4 separate regions of the Homo sapiens genome follow, and all the other regions are linked to region 1. Evidence: fine-mapped expression QTL. A gene starts in region 1. Each other region holds a variant in brackets. All regions are shown on one strand. Distances are between the middles of the regions.

What was found.
Region 2: its variant is fine-mapped to the expression of FHL2 in whole blood (TOPMed, PIP above 0.99).
Region 3: its variant is fine-mapped to the expression of FHL2 in ileum (CEDAR, PIP 0.95).
Region 4: its variant is fine-mapped to the expression of FHL2 in whole blood (INTERVAL, PIP above 0.99).

What each region holds. Positions count from the first base shown.
Region 1 is chr2:105,395,995-105,401,142 of GRCh38, reverse strand. It overlaps FHL2 (four and a half LIM domains 2), which reads left to right and starts at 2,092. Exons shown (of 7, transcript NM_001318895.3): 1 at 2,092-2,301; 2 at 4,446-4,496. RefSeq lists silencers at 1,989-2,118, 2,139-2,358 and an enhancer at 1,489-2,311.
Region 2 is chr2:105,371,310-105,376,457 of GRCh38, reverse strand. FHL2 (four and a half LIM domains 2) reads left to right here. Exons shown (of 7, transcript NM_001318895.3): 4 at 2,725-2,899. It also overlaps a transcript of C2orf49 not described here. Among named protein-coding and RNA genes, the nearest start is that of FHL2, 25 kb to the left of the region's middle. RefSeq lists an enhancer at 2,284-2,563. The variant G/A (reference allele first, on the strand shown) is at 2,349.
Region 3 is chr2:106,135,092-106,140,239 of GRCh38, reverse strand. The region is part of intron 6 of UXS1 (UDP-glucuronate decarboxylase 1); the gene reads left to right. Among named protein-coding and RNA genes, the nearest start is that of UXS1, 57 kb to the left of the region's middle. The variant G/A (reference allele first, on the strand shown) is at 2,353.
Region 4 is chr2:105,424,134-105,429,281 of GRCh38, reverse strand. It overlaps a transcript of FHL2 not described here. Among named protein-coding and RNA genes, the nearest start is that of FHL2, 28 kb to the right of the region's middle. RefSeq lists an enhancer at 1,372-1,873. The variant G/A (reference allele first, on the strand shown) is at 2,837.

The DNA of each region.
Region 1 (5,148 bases):
TTGTCTCATAAAAATTGATTTTCTACTAGTTTATTCTTTGATTAGAATCCAATAAGATCCAAAAAAAAAAAAAAAAAAGAATCCAATAAGATCCATACATGGCAGTTGGCTAAGTCTTTTTTTAATCTCTTGGTTCTGTCTCCATCTCTCTTGTTTTTCTTTGTGCATCGTTGTTGTAGAAACTGGGTATGTTTGTTTCCAGAGTCCGGATTTTACTGACCCTATCGAATGACCACAGGGTCATTTAAAATGTTCTGCTACCCATTAGGTCAAAAATTAAACACAAAATTAAATTGCAGAATTTCTTAATAATAAAACACAACATAGCTGAACCTATGTGACACAGCTAAAGCAGTTATTAGAAGAAAAATAACAGAACTAAATAACTCTATCAGTAAAAAAGCAAAGCTAAATGGATTACACCCGTAAGTCAGAAAGCTAAAAAAAAAAAAAAAATTAAAATATAAGACAAAAGGAATCAGAAAGAAGATAAATGCAGAATTAATGTTTCATCATTTTAGGGCTTGTTTTTACAAACTGAAGCTTAAGACTCACCATTTGAGAACTAGGAGACCATTTCCTAATTTGTAACGATATCAACAACACATCTAGGTAGCTGTCAGGGGCTGGGAGCCTTTTCTACACAAACTTTGCTCTGAATTTCAAAATACTAGCCTGTCTTGACACTTAGTGGAAATTCAGGTAGGGTGGCCTTAACTCAGGTTCTTCAGGAAAGCGTCCTGTTTCAGGGACACAGTGGGGTGGGGTCGGGGGAGGGCTGTATTCCGCACATCTAGTTCTGGCTGGGCTTATGGCAAGTCTCAGTCCTCTGGAGTCACCTGAGTGACTGAGGGATGAGAGGCATTTCTGATCCCGTAATATACTTACATGGCTTTGCCATCTACCACATCCCAGTTCAAATCTCAGCTGGCACAGTTACCGTTCACGTGGCCTGGAGCAAATCTGAGCTGAACTTTCCTCACCGTAAATCTGGTAAAAATCTTTACCTTAAAGGAGTGTGGATCAAATGAGATACCAGGTAGAGCTAGTGCTCACCGAGTGGAAGCTAAGGTGATGAAGCCCCTTTATTCTCAAGTTCTGTGATTCCATGATGGAGACCCATGAGGCCTACCAGACGGAGAGTATCAATTAAAAGAAAGCAATCACGGAGTTCTTCCCGCCTTCTCTGGAGGATGTATTCCTATGAGCTGCCCCGAATGTTAAAAATAATACACCTGCCCCCAAAGTGCCGAGGACGCCTTTGTGGTCCACCTACTCATCGTCCACCGGTTTCTGCAAGTGGACCGGTTACCTGCTCAGGAGCAAATGTTTCCATCACGACGCACCCTCTCCCAGGGATGGGCTCAACCTGTGCTCTCCCTGCGACAATGCTGAACAGTGCCATCTGTCCCTACCCAGCGTCAGCGTCACGCAGAGGGCCCGGGCTTGGAATGTGGGAGGCACGCTCCCAGCTCACTTTGGTTTTCCCGCCCTGGAGGGGAATCCAAGATGTCTAACTAGTCTTCTGGCCCCGAGAGGGAGAGGTGGGGATAGGACCTTCCTTTAGTCCCCTCCGTAGTGGAACGAAGGATTCTTTATGGTCATCTGTGGTGTTCATTTCGTAAAGAAGCATCTGCAGGGTAAGAAGGAAAAACGTCCACCTTGCAAATATATCCCAGGCACATGCCTCCTGAGAAGTGACCCCCTCCTCCCTCCGCCTCCCCCGGCACGTCCTGGGGCTTCTCCAGTCTCCCGCTCCTGGGACCAGGCAGAGATCCCGGCGTGGGCAGACCCCTGCCACCGCGCCCAGGCCTCGTCCGAAACTCGCGCCCGAGAGCCCACGCCGGAGGCGACGCTCCCGATAACTACTGTGCTCCCAAGACCCGGAGGGCACGAAGAAAGGAGCCCTGGCAAACAAAGGGTACGGGCCGGGACCGCCGCAGCCCGGGGCGGGGGCACGGCAACCGCGAGGCCTGGGGGCGCCCGCCCCCCGCGCCCCACGCCCGGTGCCAGCGAGCCGAGGCGTGCATCTCCTTATATGGTCAAATGACACGGCGGGGTTTCTCGAGGGCGGGAGCTGCGCAGCGCTCCACTCGGCCGGCAGCGGAGCCGCAGCCACCAGCCGCCCGCGCCCTCCAGCCCCGTCCGGGAGTCCCCGGCCCGCTGCGGTGCCGTGAGTACCTCCAACCCCCTGCGCCCCGGAGGGAGGCCGAGGGGCTTAGCCACCAGGGCTCGGAAGTGGGGGCCGAATCCGGTGCGAGACCCAAGGAGAGGGGAGCAGAGCCGGAGTTGGGGAGACTGGTGAGAGGAGAGCAGAGCTGTGGGTCCGGGAAGACCACTGGGAGAGGGGACCCGAACCGTGCGGGGAGAAGCCGGGAGAAAGGAGTTGAGCTGTGGGGTAGACCCGGGAGAGGAGAGCCGAACCCTGGGGGTTGGGGGTGGGGAGACCACGGGGAGAGGGGAGCGGAGCAATGGGAGGGGTCTAGACCCTGGGGGCGCTGGAGCTCAGAGGAGCCCACCGACTCATCCCCAGAGGGAGGACTGCAGCCCGCGTCCTCACCAGGTGGGGCACCGCCATGCGGGCAGGGACCGGGCGAGCCTGGGTAAAGGCTGGCCGCGGGTCCCAGCCGGCGGCTGCGGGGAGGTGACGCTGTCCGCCTGCTTCCAGGCCCGACTCCCGAGCGGGCTGTCCTGGCACGGTGGTCTGCGCGGGGGAGTCCGGGCCATTTCCCTTTAGTAGAAATAAGTGGAGTTTGCAGTGTGACCTCGCTCCTTGACTCAGGTAGACATTTAATAACTGAACCATTCGGTTAAAACAAAAATGGCTTATTTTAAATGAAAAGATTCTAAGTTTTTCTTAAGTCGCACTCGTGTGATATCTTAGCATACCAGAAATAGAGGGAAGAAAATATTGAGTGTTTTTCTGATTTTAAATGAATCAGTCATATTTATTTTCATATCCTCAGTCGGGTTTTAACTGGAAGTAGGCTAATCCGGTTAGCTGAAATGTGTAGCTGGCTTGCAAGCAGCAGTGTACTTAGACATCACTGAACTTAAGGCCCGCACTCCCTTCCACATATTTTGGAAGGTAATAAATCACAATTTGGGTTTAGAATCAGGAGAACTGTCTTCAAAACACAACTCCCAATACATCTCACATTTTTGGTGCTGACTCTACTAATGAGTGTTTTATAATAATATATTAAAGAAAAGAGGTTTTGCACTATCCTGAAGATGTTTTAGACAAAAAAAAACAAAAAACAAAAAAACAAAAACCATTTGCATCAAGTCTTAGAAGTACAGGAATTCCTAGTCTATCAATTAAACTTTAATAAAACCAAACTCAAAGAACATTTCATTGTGCATTTATATAAAATTTTGTCAAGTGTTACTGGATTTAGATCACCCCCCAGTTTAGAAGATCATCAGTTAATACACAGAATTGTGTTTCCACGGTGTTTATTAGCCTGCCATGGTTTAAAATGCGTTTACACCATAACATGTCGATGAAGGCTAATGATGGGCTTACTACAGACCAGAAACTGTTCTGGGCACATAGGTTCTGTCTCATTTTAGCTCACCGTCTCACAAATAGCCACAGGCAGATGCAGTAGGCTAGGGGATGCCGGGGACTGCATGTAGGCTGCCTAAATTTACATCCGGGTCCCTCAACCTGTGCAGCCTGGGCCAAGTCACTTAATCTCGTAGTGTCTCGGTTTTCTCCACTGGGAAACAGGGACAATGATGTTGTCTTTTTGTTAGGGTTGTTAAGAAGCCTGGACATCATAGACAGTGTATACATATTTGATAGCCTCATTTTTACAGGTAAAGACACTGAAAACAGAGATCAAAGTAACTTTAACTCAGGGTTTCCCGGGCTGTAAATGGTAGCCCTGAGATCTGACCCCAGGCAGCTTAACTGGAGAACCTGAGTTCTAACCACTAAACGCACCACGGGAGGAACATTTGAATATTTATTTATTTTTTTTAACATTTGAATATTTCTATGAGGCCTTATGATGCATACTTTGACCCAAGATTGCGTGTTAAACCATTTCCAGTACTGAAAGATATTTAAATTGCAGTCAAAAACGCCCAATAGAATATTGCCAAAAAAAAAAAAAAAAAAAAACAGACTAGATATCAGGAGTAGTTTACTCCTGTCCTGTGCCGAGGGCCAGTTACTCAGCCTCAGTGACTCAGGCAGCCTCCTTTGTCAGCACCGGGCCTGAGTCGCTAAGCGGCTCTCTGACTCAGATGCCCTGAGGTACAAAGTTCCTTGAGCTTGGGTGAATGGAAACATTAGACATTGGGTTCTTCTGTGCGGTTTTATTATGAGAATTTGATCAAAGCCACATTTATTAAGTGTCCATCTCAAGTTGCATTATACTGAGTTCGCTTCCTCAAGATGACCATCTGAAACAAAACACGTGTGCTTTCTCTAGTGGCTGAGAACTGTGTCTTCCTGGAGACTAGGCTGGCATTTTGACTTTGGGGTGAGTCAAGTGAATTTCCTCTGTTATCCTAAATTGTGGATTTCAGTTTTAGCTACTGTGATGGTTACTTTCATGTGTCAACTTGACTGGGCCATGCGGTGCCCAAACATTCAGTCATATGTTCTGGGTGTGTCTGGGAGGGTGTTTTTGGATGAGATTGACATATGAATGGGTAGACTGAGTAAAGCAGGCTGCTCTCCATAATGTGAGTGGGCCTTGTCCAAACAGTTGAAGGCCTGAATAGAACAAAAAAACTGAGTAAGAGGGAAGCCCCCCTGCCGGACTGCTTGAGCTGGGACATTGGTCCTTTCCGCCTTTGGACTCACACTGAAACATCGGCTCTTCTTGGGTCTATAGAGTCTCCTCTTTTCAGACTGCAATTTGCACCATCGGCTCTCCTGGGTCTCCAGCCTACTGACTGCAGGTCTTGGGACTTTTTCACCTTCGTAATTGTGTGAGCTAAATCATTGCGATAAATCTCTCTATGTACATCTCTTGTTGGTTCTATTTTTCTAGAAAACCCTGACTATTACAGCTCTCTGGTAACATCTATTTAAAAAGTCTCCCCACCAACTGTCATTCTCCCTTTTTTTAAGATTTGATCACTACTTTGCTCCTGGGAGTCTTGGCTTTCCTCTTGCTGTAAAACATG
Region 2 (5,148 bases), 25 kb after region 1:
TCAAAGTCTAAACAAAGGCAATACTGAGCCACATTCATTTAGGTACAAAATATGTTCTAGAAAGTTGCCAGAGTTTGGTCGTTTCTGGATTTTTTTAAATGAACACACACACACATCTCCTCAAGGCTATCTGTTTTGAAAGCAAAGAGTAACACAGACCCGACCAGGATTTTGCCTGGGCTGGTTCAGTGGAAATAACTTTCGCATCAGGAGGACTTGAGCTCGAAGCTTGGCTTAGCTCCGTGCCAGGTATGTGACTGGGCAAGTTACGGAACTTCTCTGACCTTCAGTAATAACATTTACCTTGCAGGGCTGTGCCGTGCCTGGAGCTCACAGATGGGGTAATGATGGTCATCACTAGTGTTTCAGATGTCTTTTTGAAGCCGGGGCGTGTGCATGGAAAGAATGGAGACCATGCCTGTTCCCGAACGATGATGATGTCCATGTGGATTGTGGGCTTTGCTGTTTCTCATGAGTTCACATGTGTAGACATCAACTCAAATCAAAGCAGTTTGTCCTCTATTTCACTTGTCAAAATAACCAATAAAGCACAGGTGATGTTCCCCTCAGATTTCTGAAAATACTTTAAGCTAAAAATACAAAAGACAGGTTAGCCCTCTGCCCCCAACTCCCAGTGCATACCCAGTTTGGGTTCTCAAGGATGAAGAGGGCTTGGGCATTTCAGCAACCTGCCCCCGAGTCCCCCTGACAGGCAGTGCCTACCCCAGGGGACCCACAATACCCAGAGGTGCTGGGCTCAGGTGAGAATGAATTCCGCAGAAACAAGGGCATTTAGTCCAGCTTTGAGAGCACTCTATGCTCCTCTCACCTTCATTCCTTTTGTTTTGAGACTGAGTCTCCTTCTGTCACCAAGGCTGTGCAACCTCCACCTCCCAGGTTCAAGCGATTCTCCTGCCTCAGCTTCCCAAGTAGCTGGGACTAAAGGCATGCACCACCACGCCCGGCTAATGTTTGTATTTTTAGTGGAGATAGGGTTTCGCCATGTTGGCCAGGCTTGTCTTGAACTCCTGACCTCTCCTTCATTCTTTATCGTCTTGCGTCAGCAATAATCCTATTCCCAGATGTTCTAGGAAGCAAACTTCCAACAGGGATAGCACAAGAGGTCACCCCTCACAAAGGCCATAGTCATGACTGTCTTCAAAGTGTCTCAGCGTTCACATTTTTAAAATTCCTTGAACTAAAACAAAATGCGCAAAGAGATCACTAAATCAAATAACTAGTTTGGTTCCAGGTTCCGGGAAAACACACATACATGCACACATGTGCACACGCACGCGCACACACACACACACACACACACACATACTTCAGCAAAAGAGAACTGTTTGTTCTAGTTTTGGTTCCGAGTTAGCTGGTGTTTTAGGACTTTCTAATCAAGGCCAAGATCCATGTCTTCACATCCTACATTCAGCATAACTCCAGCTTCGACTTCGGTTTCAGTAACAGAGACATCGTGGGCAGGCTCTTCTTCAGGGCCATCGCGTGAACAGCCCTCCTGTGCCCTGTTCAGGATACCTACCAACTGGAAGCCTGCCCAGGAAACCGTGCAGAGCCTAATACTCTGTTTCTGCCTCATGTATAAATGGATGATGATTTGGGGTCAGAGCTGGGAACACAAAGACAGCAATAGAAACATATCCTTTCTAAGATAAAGCTGGGCATAAAGAGATTGTTATTTTAATTTTGTGTTGGCACTTTAAAAATGCCGTATGTCATTTTTAAAAGGCAAATATGGAGGGTTCTCTTATTCCTCAGGCAAGATGAAGCCAAGTGTGGAGTCGAGTTTTCTGCGGGGCTCCTTTCTCTCCCTCATCTTTTACTCAAAAGCACACGTCTGTCTTCTCAGGGCCTCTCTCATGTGTGCTCAGTTTTTGTCTCACTTCTCCCACCCTCACGCCCCTCCACTCCCACATCCTTACCCGTCCCCCAGTCTGAGCACTTCACTCTCCTGTTGAAAAGCAGCTGTCCACTGCCTTCAGGATCAATGGAATCTCTACACAGACATAAAAGGCAAAAAGGCAGCCATATCTTCCAGTCCAGCCAGGCCGGGGGGCCCTCCCACCTCGCCCCTGGCCTGTGGTCCCTCCAATCTGACATGCCCCCCGTCCCCAGATCTTCTGTGTCTGTGCTCTTTCTCTGCCTGAAATTCCCTTCCTCCCCCAGCTCACGGCCACCCACAGAGGTAGCACCCACACACACAGTCTCTCCTGACCGTCTCCCACCAAACAGTCCTTGGGCCTCCTGTGAACATCCCGACACCCAGAGCCTCTCTGCCATGCCGGTGACCACAGTGATCTGAGTTGGGCAGGGCTCCCTCAGCCAAGGAT[G/A]TCCTGCAGTCTGTTTCTCTGTCACCGGATGTGGTGTGAGACGAATTGATAGGTGTTCATGTTTTCTGTTTCTCTTTCTTGCAGGCAATACATAAGGGAAATCCCTTTGTTTTTTAGAAGCATCTCTCACACACAGACATGTGCATACATGCACATCTGTCTAACCTGTTGCTCTAAAATGCAGCAAGAGAAAAGCAGCCTAGTCTTAATTGATTTCAGCAGTTAGGTGGTCCTGGGGCATGAATGTGGGTGCGCCAGGGTGCCTCGGCCCAACTTCTTTCCTTGTTTGCCCTGCAGATTCGCAAGGGGCCCCTATGCTGTGGGTCCAAGCCCTCCTGTCCTGCCTCTGACTGTCTTGTGTGGTCTGGCCCCACAGGACTTGTCTTACAAGGACCGGCACTGGCATGAAGCCTGTTTCCACTGCTCGCAGTGCAGAAACTCACTGGTGGACAAGCCCTTTGCTGCCAAGGAGGACCAGCTGCTCTGTACAGACTGCTATTCCAACGAGTACTCATCCAAGTGCCAGGAATGCAAGAAGACCATCATGCCAGGTCAGGAGGCACTCCTTTCTCATGCGTGAGCCAGTCTAGCTTCAAGCCTTGTGCACGTTCCTCTGACCCCCTGTTCACATTGACTTGGTTCCAGACACTCGTGTTGACTTTCCAGTTTGACCTTGAACTGCAGAGGAGTATTTAGAGTACTTACGAAGCAGGGACATACAGGTTCTATCATGGGCAGTAACGGGATCTTTTTGCTGTGCACGTGGGGCAGTGTTATGCAGTCAAATTGTTAGAGTAAGAAAATGGTGGGTATCCCCCTTAAAAATACATCTCCTGCATCAGCCCCCACTCTCCCACCACCATAGATAGTTTCTCTTTTCTTCCCTTCTACCTGCTGAATTTGTACTCATTCAGTTATTTCACCAAGTGTGCATGGTGCCCTTGCGTGCCAGGCACTGGGCTCGAGCTGAGCATTCGTAGGGTGTGAGCCGAGGTGCACCTGGTCCTCTGCCCTTGTAGAGTTGGTGTTCTAGACGGACAGTCAAAAAGGGCACAGCCGCAACTGGGCCAGGTGCCGAGGATGGCAATAAAGGTGCCTTGTGTGTTGATGGGACTGTGTCCCTCATGGTTTTTTTGTGTGTGTATGTGGGGGGAGTTATTTGTTTTGTTTTGTTTTTTATGTAGGAGAGCAGAATCTTTTATTTTAAAAAGCAAAGTGGACAAAAATATGTGGAATTTCAAAATACAGAAAGAAGCTGGGTGCGGTGGCTTATACCTGTAATTCCAGTACTTTGGGAGGCTGAGGTGGGTGGATCACTTGAGGTCAGGAGTTTGAAATCGGCCTGGCCAATGTGGTTCAGTGGTGCAATCTTGACTCACTGCAACCTCTGCCTCCCAGGTTCAAGAGATTCTTCTGCCTTAGCCTCCTAAGTAGCTGAGACTACAGGCGTGCACCACCACACCTGGCTAATTTTTGTATTTTTAGTAGAGATGGGGTTTCATCATGTTGGTTTGCTTTGTTTTTGATAATAAAGAAATACTGAAGAGACTGACATATGGGAAATAGTTTAGAAATATATGTAGGATGCCAGGTGTGGTGGCTCACCCCTGTAATCCCAGCACTTTGCAAGGCTAAGGAGGGCGGATCACGAGGTCAGGAGTTTGAGACCAGCCAGGCTAACATGGTAAAACGCTGTCTCTACTAAAAATACAAAAAATTAGCCGGGCATAGTGGCGGGCGTCTGTAGTCCCAGCTACTCGGGAGGCTGAGGCAGGAGAATGGCCTGAACCCAGGAGATGGAGCTTGCAGTGAGCTGAGATCACGCCACTGCACTCCAGCCTGGGTGACAGAGTGAGACTCCGTCTCAAAAAAAAAAGAAAGTTATGTAGGATAAGGAATAATCATTTTTTAAAAAGGCAAGGAGGTAATCTGACCTTTGGTAAGATGGTTTCTTACTGCCACTACATTTCTCTGGTTAATATAACTTTAAAACAACTGTGACACACTATGACAGGGAAGAAAAATGCCCAGGCTGACACAGTCCCAGCCCTGTTGGCAGCTGTAAGGGAAAACAGCTGGAAGGGCTGCATGGTGACTTTAGATGGGGCAGCTCCAGGCAAGAAGGCCTCTTCTAAGATCATGTGGATCCTGCAGAGGCTGGAAACTCGGGCCCCAGTGCTGTGCGACAGTGCAAATGAGAATTGAAGCCCGTAGAAAGCCAGGCTGACCTGTGTCCTGCCCCACAGGGAGTCACTGCAGAGACACAACACTCAGTAACAATAAGAACCACGACATTAATTGAAAAACAAATTAAACCCTTACTAGTTTCCTGAACAAGGGCCCAAGGAAGCTTCCACTGGGGACTCTAGGGGCTGTTTAAAGACTTTAACTGTTAGCACCAACCATGACATAAAAAGTATGCATATTTCCCGGATTTTGAATTTTTCACCTGTCTTGACTTTCTGTGTTAGTCACGTTCTCCAGAGAAACAGAATCAATCAAGGAAATGTATACACATAGATACATACATAAGGAGAGAGAGAGAGAGAGAGAGAGAGAGAGATTTCAAGGGATTGGCTCATGAGATTGTGGAGGCGGTAAGTCTGGAATCTATAGAACAGGGCAGCAGGCTGGAGGCTCAGGGAAGAGATGATACTGCAGTTCCAAATGGGAGCATTTGAATTCCGTAGGGCGGCAGGCTGGAAACTCAGGCAGGGTGTGTCTATTGCAGTCTTGAGAAGAATTAGTTGCCCTTAGGGAAACCTTAGTCTTTGCCCCTAAGGCCCACTACCGATTAGAT
Region 3 (5,148 bases), 740 kb before region 1:
AGCCCCTCGCTCAGAACAGTCGACAGCACTGGCGGGCAACCCCAGCTCCCGGGGGCTGAGCCAGTCTCTAGTGTGTGCAGCCTTTGCCCTAAGTAAATACATTTGACATGAAATGAAGGGAAAATCTTGCTGTTCTGCTTCTTTGTGCCGAGAGAAATTTGGTCTTTATACTTTGAGAAGTTCTGTATCTTCTTCATTCCTGTTTTCCATCCTAAATACTGGTTCTAGAGACAAAGACTAGGGCCATGCTGTGAGACTTCACATTGCAGAGAGGGACATCTCGTTGGGGAGTATTTCTGTAAGACCTCTGACTCAAGTGTAGAAAAAGAGAATTCTACTGTAAGTATCTTTTATGATGGGAATTTAGTATGTGCTAAATAATCGCGTGAGTTATCACAGAAAGAACTAACCCACTGTTTTGCGTTTTAGTGTTTCTATAGTCTTTAGTTTCATGGTACAAATCCTGAACTGGTCCTTGGCAGTTTCATACAGCATGGGTGTGGCACAGAATGAGGCTTGACACAGACTATGTCACTAACTTAAGACAAAATTAAAAAAGAAAATCAACAAAGGAGTGGAAGCTACAGTCAGTTTTTATGTGGATTTCCCCTTTGGTAGAAGAAAATGTCGATTTCTCCGATGTGTTCTGAACAGTGGTTTCAGGTTATCCCGAGTTGTTCTCCTCCTATGGTGATTTTTTTCTTCCCTATGTATGTGTCATTTATGTGGGTTTTGGGCACAGTGAAATTCAACCTAAGACCCTTTAGGGAGTTCATTTGTGGTTTGACTGGTTGAGTTTCCCCAGTCAGGATTCATAGAAGGGCCGAGTAAGTCGCAGCTGTGCCCTCACCCAGCCACTTCCCAACATAAGATTACCCTGCATGCTCTCTGGTAGGAATGCTGCTGATCATTAATTGGAGCTCTTTTAGGCTCATTTCTTGAGACTTCTATTTTTCTAGCTGAGCTCCCAGCACGTGGCCTTGTAAATGTGAAAGGTCGTGGCAGGGTCTCTAGCGGTCTCTGGAGCAACTGTGGGCACCCATGAATGGGCTGCCTTTCTGTCCCCCTTTGACTTCCTCTCCCCACCTCAGCTTGGATTTTGGAACGTCAGGCTCATGCTTGGTGTACTCTGAACTGTGCAGTTGACATGTTCCCAGGGCCTTTGTCCTGGGCTGTGAGGGTTAACCTTGCTGCTTTATTTATATTCCGAAGCCGGTTGTTATTAATGTTACTTACTGTTTACCTAGCACCTCTCATTGCTGGTTATTTGTCCCTGCTCTGAATTTCCCCTCTTCTCTCCCCTTCAGAATTTCTCACCAGATTATTTAACCAACAGACTCTGCTGCAGTGCCCTTTTTAGGATAGGAACTGGAGTTATTGTTAATGTTACAGGAAGAACACATTCTCAAAGGAGAGGGGGGTGGTGGGAAACTTTGATTTTCATAGGGTTTTCAGTTTCCTCTCAAATGGGAGGATGCAGCAGTGCCGCTACTTAACTGAACGTCTCGACAGTCTGATGGGGCGGCCCTCAGCCTTCCGGAGCAGCAGTGGGACTGACCTGTCCAGTGAGGAAGAAACACTGAACCAGATGGAATGGCCTTTGGGGATGGAAAAACCCCAGTTTACGCTCATCTCTTCTCTCAGCTAACTTTTGTGGAGCCCTGTTCCCAAACTGGCCTGGGCCAGAGCACCGTGGAGGGGTATTTGTTGTAAATGGAAGGTTTCCAGGCCCGCCTGGAAATCCTGAAGGGTGAGACCTGCAGTGGGCTCAGGAGTCTGCATTTGTGGGTGACCGAGGGGGCCTCCCCTCCCTCTAGAGTCCACACTGTGGAGAGCATCAGGAAGGGAAAGGCCTGCATCTTGTGCTCAGTGAGCTCATCGTCTAGTGAGGAAGGCATGTGTGAATCTCTGGACAAGGCAGCGCTGAGCTGTTGTGGACTAGTGGTGCAGGCAAGGGATTATTTCTGACCAAGGATGGTGAGAAGGTTTCCCATACAGACTGACGTCTGGATTGAGCTTTGAAGAAGAAAGCCAGGACTGGAGCAGACGACGAGGAGGGAAGAGTGTGAGGTTAATGATAGTGGCTTTCTGTTTGATGTCGGAGAGGCTTCCTGTACTCTCAAGGCACACTTCTTCCCTCTTAGCCTTTAATGCAGTTTCCTGTCTTTCCCTGCATACCTTGTCACCTCAAGAGTAAAGATAATGATGAATAATTTGTTGTGTAAGATCACAGCCCATACAGAGTTGTTTATACTCTCTTTGAGGAATGTAGGGTGACCCTGTCTGTGTAAGCAGAAATGCCCGTGAGTATAAGTCAGGTGGCAGCAGGCTCCAGGTCTAGCACACCTGAGC[G/A]GGCTCTGTGGTGTCGTACTCGGCTCTGAAGGTCTGGCCAGGTTCATTTTTTAAAATTTTAATTTTAATTTTTAAATTTTATTTATTTTTTTGAGACGGAGTTTTGCTCTTGTTGTCCATGCTGCGGTGCAATGGTGCCATCTTGGTTCACTGCAACCTCTGCCTCCCAGGTTCAAGTGATTCTCCTGCCTCACCTTCCCAAGTAGCTGGGATTACAGGTGCCTGCCACCACACCTAGCTATTTTTTTTTTTTTATATTTTTAGTAGAGACGGGTTTCACCATGTTGGCCAGGCTGGATTCGAACTCCTGACCTCAGGTGATCCACCCACCTCGGCCTCCCAAAGTGCTAGGATTACAGGTGTGAGCCATTGTGCCTGGCCCTCATTTGGTTTTCAACTTGGCACAGTCCTGCTCCAAAGTGGCAGTGGGTATGAGGAGGAATCTTCAGAGGAGGCAGCACAGTGCCTGTTTCTGGGGCTAATGGTCTGCTGCTTCTACCTGCAGCCCTGGAGCTTGGAAGTAGGTGTAGCAGGAACTGACCCGGTCTGTGCTGATCCTAGCTGGAAACTGCAAAAGATAGCTTGGCCTTAGAATTATGGGACTTTGTGAGAACTGATTTTTAAAAGGTATCTTGTTAAATTACAATTTGTATAATACAATATTAGTTTGTCTTTTATTTTTAGCTGTTTTTCAGCTCAGAATAACTTGTGGGGGTGGGAACAGCAGTCGCAGGATTTCCTTTTACTTGGACAGATCCTCTCAGCGAACTTGCATTTTGACAGACCATCAATAATTTTAAAGATTTTGTGTTTTGTTAGTTCTCTTTACAAAAAGATTATTCTTCCCATAAGCATTGGTTCTATTTCTAAATTAACTCACTGGTTTTCAGACTTGGCTTTCTTTTTTTTTTTTTTTTTTTTTGTGTGTGTTCTTGACTTCTCCATTCTTTTTTTTTTTCTTTTTTTATTATTATTATTATACTTTAAGTTTTAGGGTACATGTGCACATTGTGCAGGTTAGTTACATATGTATACATGTGCCATGCTGGTGCGCTGCACCCACTAACGTGTCATCTAGCATTAGGTATATCTCCCAATGCTATCCCTCCCCCCTCCCCCGACCCCACCACAGTCCCCAGAGTGTGATATTCCCCTTCCTGTGTCCATGTGATCTCATTGTTCAATTCCCACCTATGAGTGAGAATATGCGGTGTTTGGTTTTTTGTTCTTGCGATAGTTTACTGAGAATGATGGTTTCCAATTTCATCCATGTCCCTACAAAGGACATGAACTCATCATTTTTTATGGCTGCATAGTATTCCATGGTGTATATGTGCCACATTTTCTTAATCCAGTCTATCATTGTTGGACATTTGGGTTGGTTCCAAGTCTTTGCTATTGTGAATAATGCCGCAATAAACATACGTGTGCATGTGTCTTTATAGCAGCATGATTTATAGTCATTTGGGTATATACCCAGTAATGGGATGGCTGGGTCAAATGGTGTTTCTAGTTCTAGATCCCTGAGGAATCGCCACACTGACTTCCACCATGGTTGAACTAGTTTACAGTCCCACCAACAGTGTAAAAGTGTTCCTATTTCTCCACATCCTCTCCAGCACCTGTTGTTTCCTGACTTTTTAATGATTGCCATTCTAACTGGTGTGAGATGATATCTCATAGTGGTTTTGATTTGCATTTCTCTGATGGCCAGTGATGATGAGCATTTTTTCATGTGTTTTTTGGCTGCATAAATGTCTTCTTTTGAGAAGTGTCTGTTCATGTCCTTCGCCCACTTTTTGATGGGGTTGTTTGTTTTTTTCTTGTAAATTTGTTTGAGTTCACTGTAGATTCTGGATATTAGCCCTTTGTCAGATGAGTAGGTTGCGAAAATTTTCTCCCATGTTGTAAGTTGCCTGTTCACTCTGATGGTAGTTTCTTTTGCTGTGCAGAAGCTCTTTAGTTTAATTAGATCCCATTTGTCAATTTTGGCTTTTGTTGCCATTGCTTTTGGTGTTTTGGACATGAAGTCCTTGCCCACGCCTATGTCCTGAATGGTAATGCCTAGGTTTTCTTCTAGGGTTTTTATGGTTTTAGGTCTAACGTTTAAATCTTTAATCCATCTTGAATTGATTTTTGTATAAGGTGTAAGGAAGGGATCCAGTTTCAGCTTTCTACATATGGCTAGCCAGTTTTCCCAGCACCATTTATTAAATAGGGAATCCTTTCCCCATTGCTTGTTTTTCTCAGGTTTGTCAAAGATCAGATAGTTGTAGATATGCGGCATTATTTCTGAGGGCTCTGTTCTGTTCCATTGATCTATATCTCTGTTTTGGTACCAGTACCATGCTGTTTTGGTTACTGTAGCCTTGTAGTATAGTTTGAAGTCAGGTAGTGTGATGCCTCCAGCTTTGTTCTTTTGGCTTAGGATTGACTTGGCGATGTGGGCTCTTTTTTGGTTCCATATGAACTTTAAAGTAGTTTTTTCCAATTCTGTGAAGAAAGTCATTGGTAGCTTGATGGGGATGGCATTGAATCTGTAAATTACCTTGGGCAGTATGGCCATTTTCACGATATTGATTCTTCCTACCCATGAGCATGGAATGTTCTTCCATTTGTTTGTGTCCTCTTTTATTTCCTTGAGCAGTGGTTTGTAGTTCTCCTTGAAGAGGTCCTTCACATCCCTTGTAAGTTGGATTCCTAGGTATTTTATTCTCTTTGAAGCAATTGTGAATGGGAGTTCACTCATGATTTGGCTCTCTGTTTGTCTGTTGTTGGTGTATAAGAATGCTTGTG
Region 4 (5,148 bases), 28 kb before region 1:
TTTGGGAGACCATCATTTTGCTACCAATTACTAAGAGGCAGAACTGCGATTTGACTCCCAGCCGATTTCTTGACCATCATATTGTGGGGCAAAGTCTTTGGTGTTTATTAAGTCCTTTTTCCCCCTTGTGGCAGTGGAGGGAGGGTGGAAACCTCTGGATCCCAGATTCAGGTTTTGTATGCCACATTAAACAGGACAGGTCATCCCCTTCTGCCCTTCTCCTCTGCAGTATAGGACGCCAAAGGCTCACAGTTAACTTTCAACATTGTTTTATCTTATGAAGGTAAGGTTTAAAACAATCCATCTCACCCCATCTCCAAATATATTATTGACTTTTAAGCAACCACAGACGTTTGATAAAAGTAGGTTACAAAGTAAAAATGAAAGCCTAGCATGGGGACAGGCCATGACATGCCTCCCATCCAACAGGGTGTCTGTACAGAGTACAGAGCAGCCGCCAAGGGCAGACCTGGAAGCAGGATCCCCACAGTAAGAGGAGCAGGTAAGGAAGAGCTGAGGCGGCCTAGCTCAGAGTGCTCCAGTGAGGGACACAGGGTCCGGGCACACAGGTGACCAGGGAGAGCGTGGCAACCCAGGCCACAACAGATAGAAGCTCCAGGAACCAGCCTAGCAAGGTGGCAGAACAAGCTGACCCACACGAAGCCAAGGGACAGGGCAAGCATGGTCATGGGGCAGCCATGGGCGGGCCTGTCCGCAGGAGAGGGTAGTAGACGGTCCTCCGAGTCAGGCTGGCGGCCTATGAGGAGCCCAACCTCTCAGGGATGGAAAGATCCCGAAGGTAATTCCAAGGCCCAGCAAACCAGCCAGGTTTGATCCACCAGGGAGGGAGCAAGTCAACAGGACATGAGAATTATTTGGGTACAAAAGAAGTGGGGTTGCAGGGAAACTAGAAGCTGGAGATGAGCTGTAGTTTGGGGAAGATGGGGTGTTCACAGCTCAGCAAGCCCCTGGCTCCCAAATCTGTGTCAGCTGAGCTATGTCCAGACCTCACCTATGGGTGGCACGGGCCGCCCTTACACATATACGCATACCTCCACTCACTTGGGGGTGGCTCAGGGCCTCCAGGACTGGAATCTAAAAGGACCTTTGTTCCTCCAGGTGGGAAAGACTAGGGGCCACCCTCAGCAGGCTTCTAGTTGACTGAGACCTTTTATGACCATGAGTTCTCAGAACAGGATTACTTACCTGGTACCCAGTTGCTTTGATCCTTTGCTTAATGTGAGCATCACAGTGTTAGAAATCAGAGGTGAATTTACATGGGCTGTGTGTTTTTGTGACAAAGCAATAAGAATAAAGTAGACTGCATACTCTAGACATACTTTCCTCAGTTATTCATACTTAGAGTGACTATTGAATTTATGGTCCAAACTGAGGCACTTTTGAGAGCACTTTTAATAAGTATGTGAGGTCCACAGGTGTAACTGCTGGTTCTCGGGGCCCTGTCAGAGGGGGTCCCTTCTCTGAGCCCAAAGCCTCACACCCAGGCACCCAGGGCCTAGTGAAGCTGCCTTAGCTGTAAGCACAATGGTTTAGAGGGATTATTCAACATCTAAATGCTTGCCTGCAACCTCAAACACTCTCATTCCTTTCACATGCAAGACAAGAAATGCTGAATAAAGTTTCTTTTGAGGCAGACCAATGATGTAACTCCCTCACAAGGGCCTCTGTTCGAAAGTCAGGGACACGTTTATCCTATTGATTATTGACATTTGAGAGTTGCACCTCCATCCCCCAAGCCCCGGAGCTCACTTTTCTTTTGTGACATTGTTCTAAATTGAGGTGCTTTTCTGCTGCCCTCTCCACATGTTCACAAGACACTCTCTCTTGTCCAGACTTCACTGAAACAGAAGTGTTTCAAGCTCCGGGTGAGTTTCATAGTGCATATCATGGGTCATGAAATCAGTTCAGTGGATTGAGATCAGCATATTTTTAACAACAAAATGAAATTGACTAGAGCAGGAAAAAATAGAATTAAAGGGAATAGAATGCTTTTCACATAGTAAGAAATTCTTTCCAGAATTTTTTCATGACAGTATATTTTTCTAGCATTAAATGTGAGGGTGATTGATGTGGTTATGATGTAAAAAATGTACTTCCTGGTGTGGGCAGCCACCAAAATTTGCAGTCCCCTGCTATAAACCATCTTTGCAGGTTTTCTTTTTCCTTTCGCCTGGATTCTTACAGTGCCAAGGGCGGCTCTCTTACTCCTACACACCCCTCTCAGGCATCCTCCATTCTCTGCAGATGGCTTAGTTTGATCCTTTAGGCTAGAGCCAACGAAATGCCTTCCTATTTGATCAGTTCTATCAACATAAGTCTTTATCGAAAAAGGAAAAGAAAGAAAAAGCCAAAACCTTGCACCATTCACCAAGGAGTGATAAGGGCCATGTGAGTAGAGATCTCTGAGAAGCTTCAAAGCAACCCGGCTAATTCTCAGCAACCCCACACCTCCTCGGCAGCATCTGCACCCCAGCACTATTTGTGCCTAAGTGTGGGAGTGCTGGGTGTTGCTGTGCGTGTGTTCTCATGCACCTCCCTTCTGTGCCACAACATAAGTGGAAAATATCTCCGCCTGAGTGCCTGGCCCCCCTTCTGCATTGTTTCGGGGTCTTTGCAGCAGCACAGGGGCTTCTAGCCTCTTCCTGTAATTTTGCAGAAGGTAGGTGCAGGAGTGGGGAGCCCTCACATCAAAGGCTGCCTTCCAGGACTGCTGGCTCAGGGAAGGGAGGAGGGTGACCCTGGTGCAGAGCAGAAGAGAGCGACCCTAGGCAGGATGTCTGGAAGGAGAGATAAAAGCAAACTGCAAAGGTATTTT[G/A]ATAGACCATGCTGTTTCCATTCTTTACCATGTGTTTTTCATTCTGCTTTTGGTTACTTTTGACTTGAATTATGGAGCCTGGTTAAGGTAACATAGATGCAATTACTTTTATACGTCAAAAATGAATACTGACTTTTCCTAGTGGGGCTGGGGGTGATGGGAAGTGGCTAAGACAGAATGCACATTGCCTTTTAGAAAGCTGGAAAGTTCTTTTCTTCTCACTTCCTTATGGCAGCAGAGAACCTGTTTTTCCAAGAGCTAAGAGCACTTTGACAAATGCACCGGGTAAAAGCTTGCATGCAAGATAGAAAGACACCCCCGATGATGACATAGTGTGGCCATTACATTGCCGAAGAGGAAGCAAATACCAAATACATCTATATTATATATGAAGGAGTGGCCTGCCCCTCCACACCTGTGGGTATTTCTAGTTGGGTGGGACGAGAGACTGAGAAAAGAAATAAGACAGAGAGACAAAGTATAGAGAAACAATAGTGGGCCCAGGGGACCGGCGCTCAGCACACCAAGGACCTGCACCGGCACCGGCCTCTGAATTCCCTCAGTTTTTATTGATTATTATTTTCATTATTTCAGCAAAAAGGAATGTAGTAGGAGAGCAGCGTGATAATAAGGAGAAGGTCAGCAAAAAACATGTGAGCAAAAGAATCTATGTCATAATTAGGTTCAAGGGAAGGTACTATGACTGGACGTGCACGTAAGCCAGATTTATGTTTCTCTCCACCCAAACATCTCAGTGGAGTAAAGAATAACAAGGCAGTATTACTGCAAACATGTCTCGTCTCCCGCCACAGGGCAGCTTTTCTCCTATCTCAGAGTTGAACAAATGTACAATCGGGTTTTACACCGAGACATTCAGTTCCCAGGGGCAAGCAGGAGACAGTGGCCTTCCTCCATCTCAACTGCAAGAGGCTTTCCTCTTTTACTAATCCACCTCAGCACAGACCCTTTACGGGTGTTGGGCTGGGGGACAGTCAGGTCTTTCTCATCCCACAAGGCCATATTTCAGACTATCACATGGGGAGAAACCTTGGACAATACCCTGCTTTCAAGGGCAGAGTTCCCTGCGGCTTTCTGCAGTGCATTGTGCCCCTGGTTTATTGAGACTAGAGAATGGCAATGACCTTTACCAAGTATACTGCTTGTAAATATTTTGTTAACAAGGCACGTCCTGCACAGCCCTAGGTCCCTTAAAACCTTGATTTTATACAACACATGTTTTTGTGAGCTCCAAGTTGGGTCAAAGTGGCTGAGGCAAAGTGGCTGGGGCAAAGCTACAAATTAACAACATCTCAGCAAAGCAATTGTTTAAAGTACAGGTCTTTTTCAAAATGGAGTCTCTTATGTCTTCCCTTTCTACATAGACACAGTGACAGTCTGATCTCTCTTTCTTTTCCCTACAATATATATATACTTTAAGTTCTGGGGTACATGTACGGAATGTGCAGGTTTGTTACATAGGTACACATGTGCCACGGTGGTTTGCTGCAACCATCAATCCATCATCTACATTAGGTATTTCTCCTAATGCTATCCCTCTCCCAGGCCCCCACTCCCTGACAGGTCCTGGTGTGTGATGTTCCCCTCCGTGTGTCCATGTGTTCTCATTGTTCAACTCCCACTTATGAGTGAGAACATGTGGTGTTTGGTTTTCTGTTCCTGTGTTAGCTTGCTGAGAATGTTCCAGCTTCATCCATTTCCCTGCAAAGGACATGAACTTATCCTTTTTATGGCTGCATAGTATTCCATGGTGTATATGTGCCACTTTTTCTTTACCCAGTCTATCATTGATGGGCATTTGGGTTGGTTCCAAGTCTTTGCTATTGTGAACAGTGCCACAATAAACATATGTGTGCATGTATCTTTATAGCAGAATGATTTATAATCCTTTGGGTATATACCCAGTAATGGGATTGCTGGGTGAAATGGTAATTCTAGTTCTAGATCCTTGAGGAATAGCCACACTGTCTTCCACAATGGTTGAACTAATTTACACTCCCACCAACAATGTAAAAGTGCTCCTATTTCTCCACATCCTCTCCAGCATCTGTTGTTTCCTGACTTTTTAATGATCAGCATTCTAACTGGCATGAGATGGTATCTCGTTGTGGTTTTGATTTGCGTTTCTCTGATGGCCAGTGATGATGAGCATTTTTTCATGTGTCTGTTGGCTGCATAAATGTCTTCTTTTGAGAAGCGTCTGTTCATATCCTTTGCCCACTTTTTGATGGGGTTGTTTGTTTTTTCTTGTAAATTTGTTTAAGTTCTTGTAGATTCTGGATATTAGCCCTTTG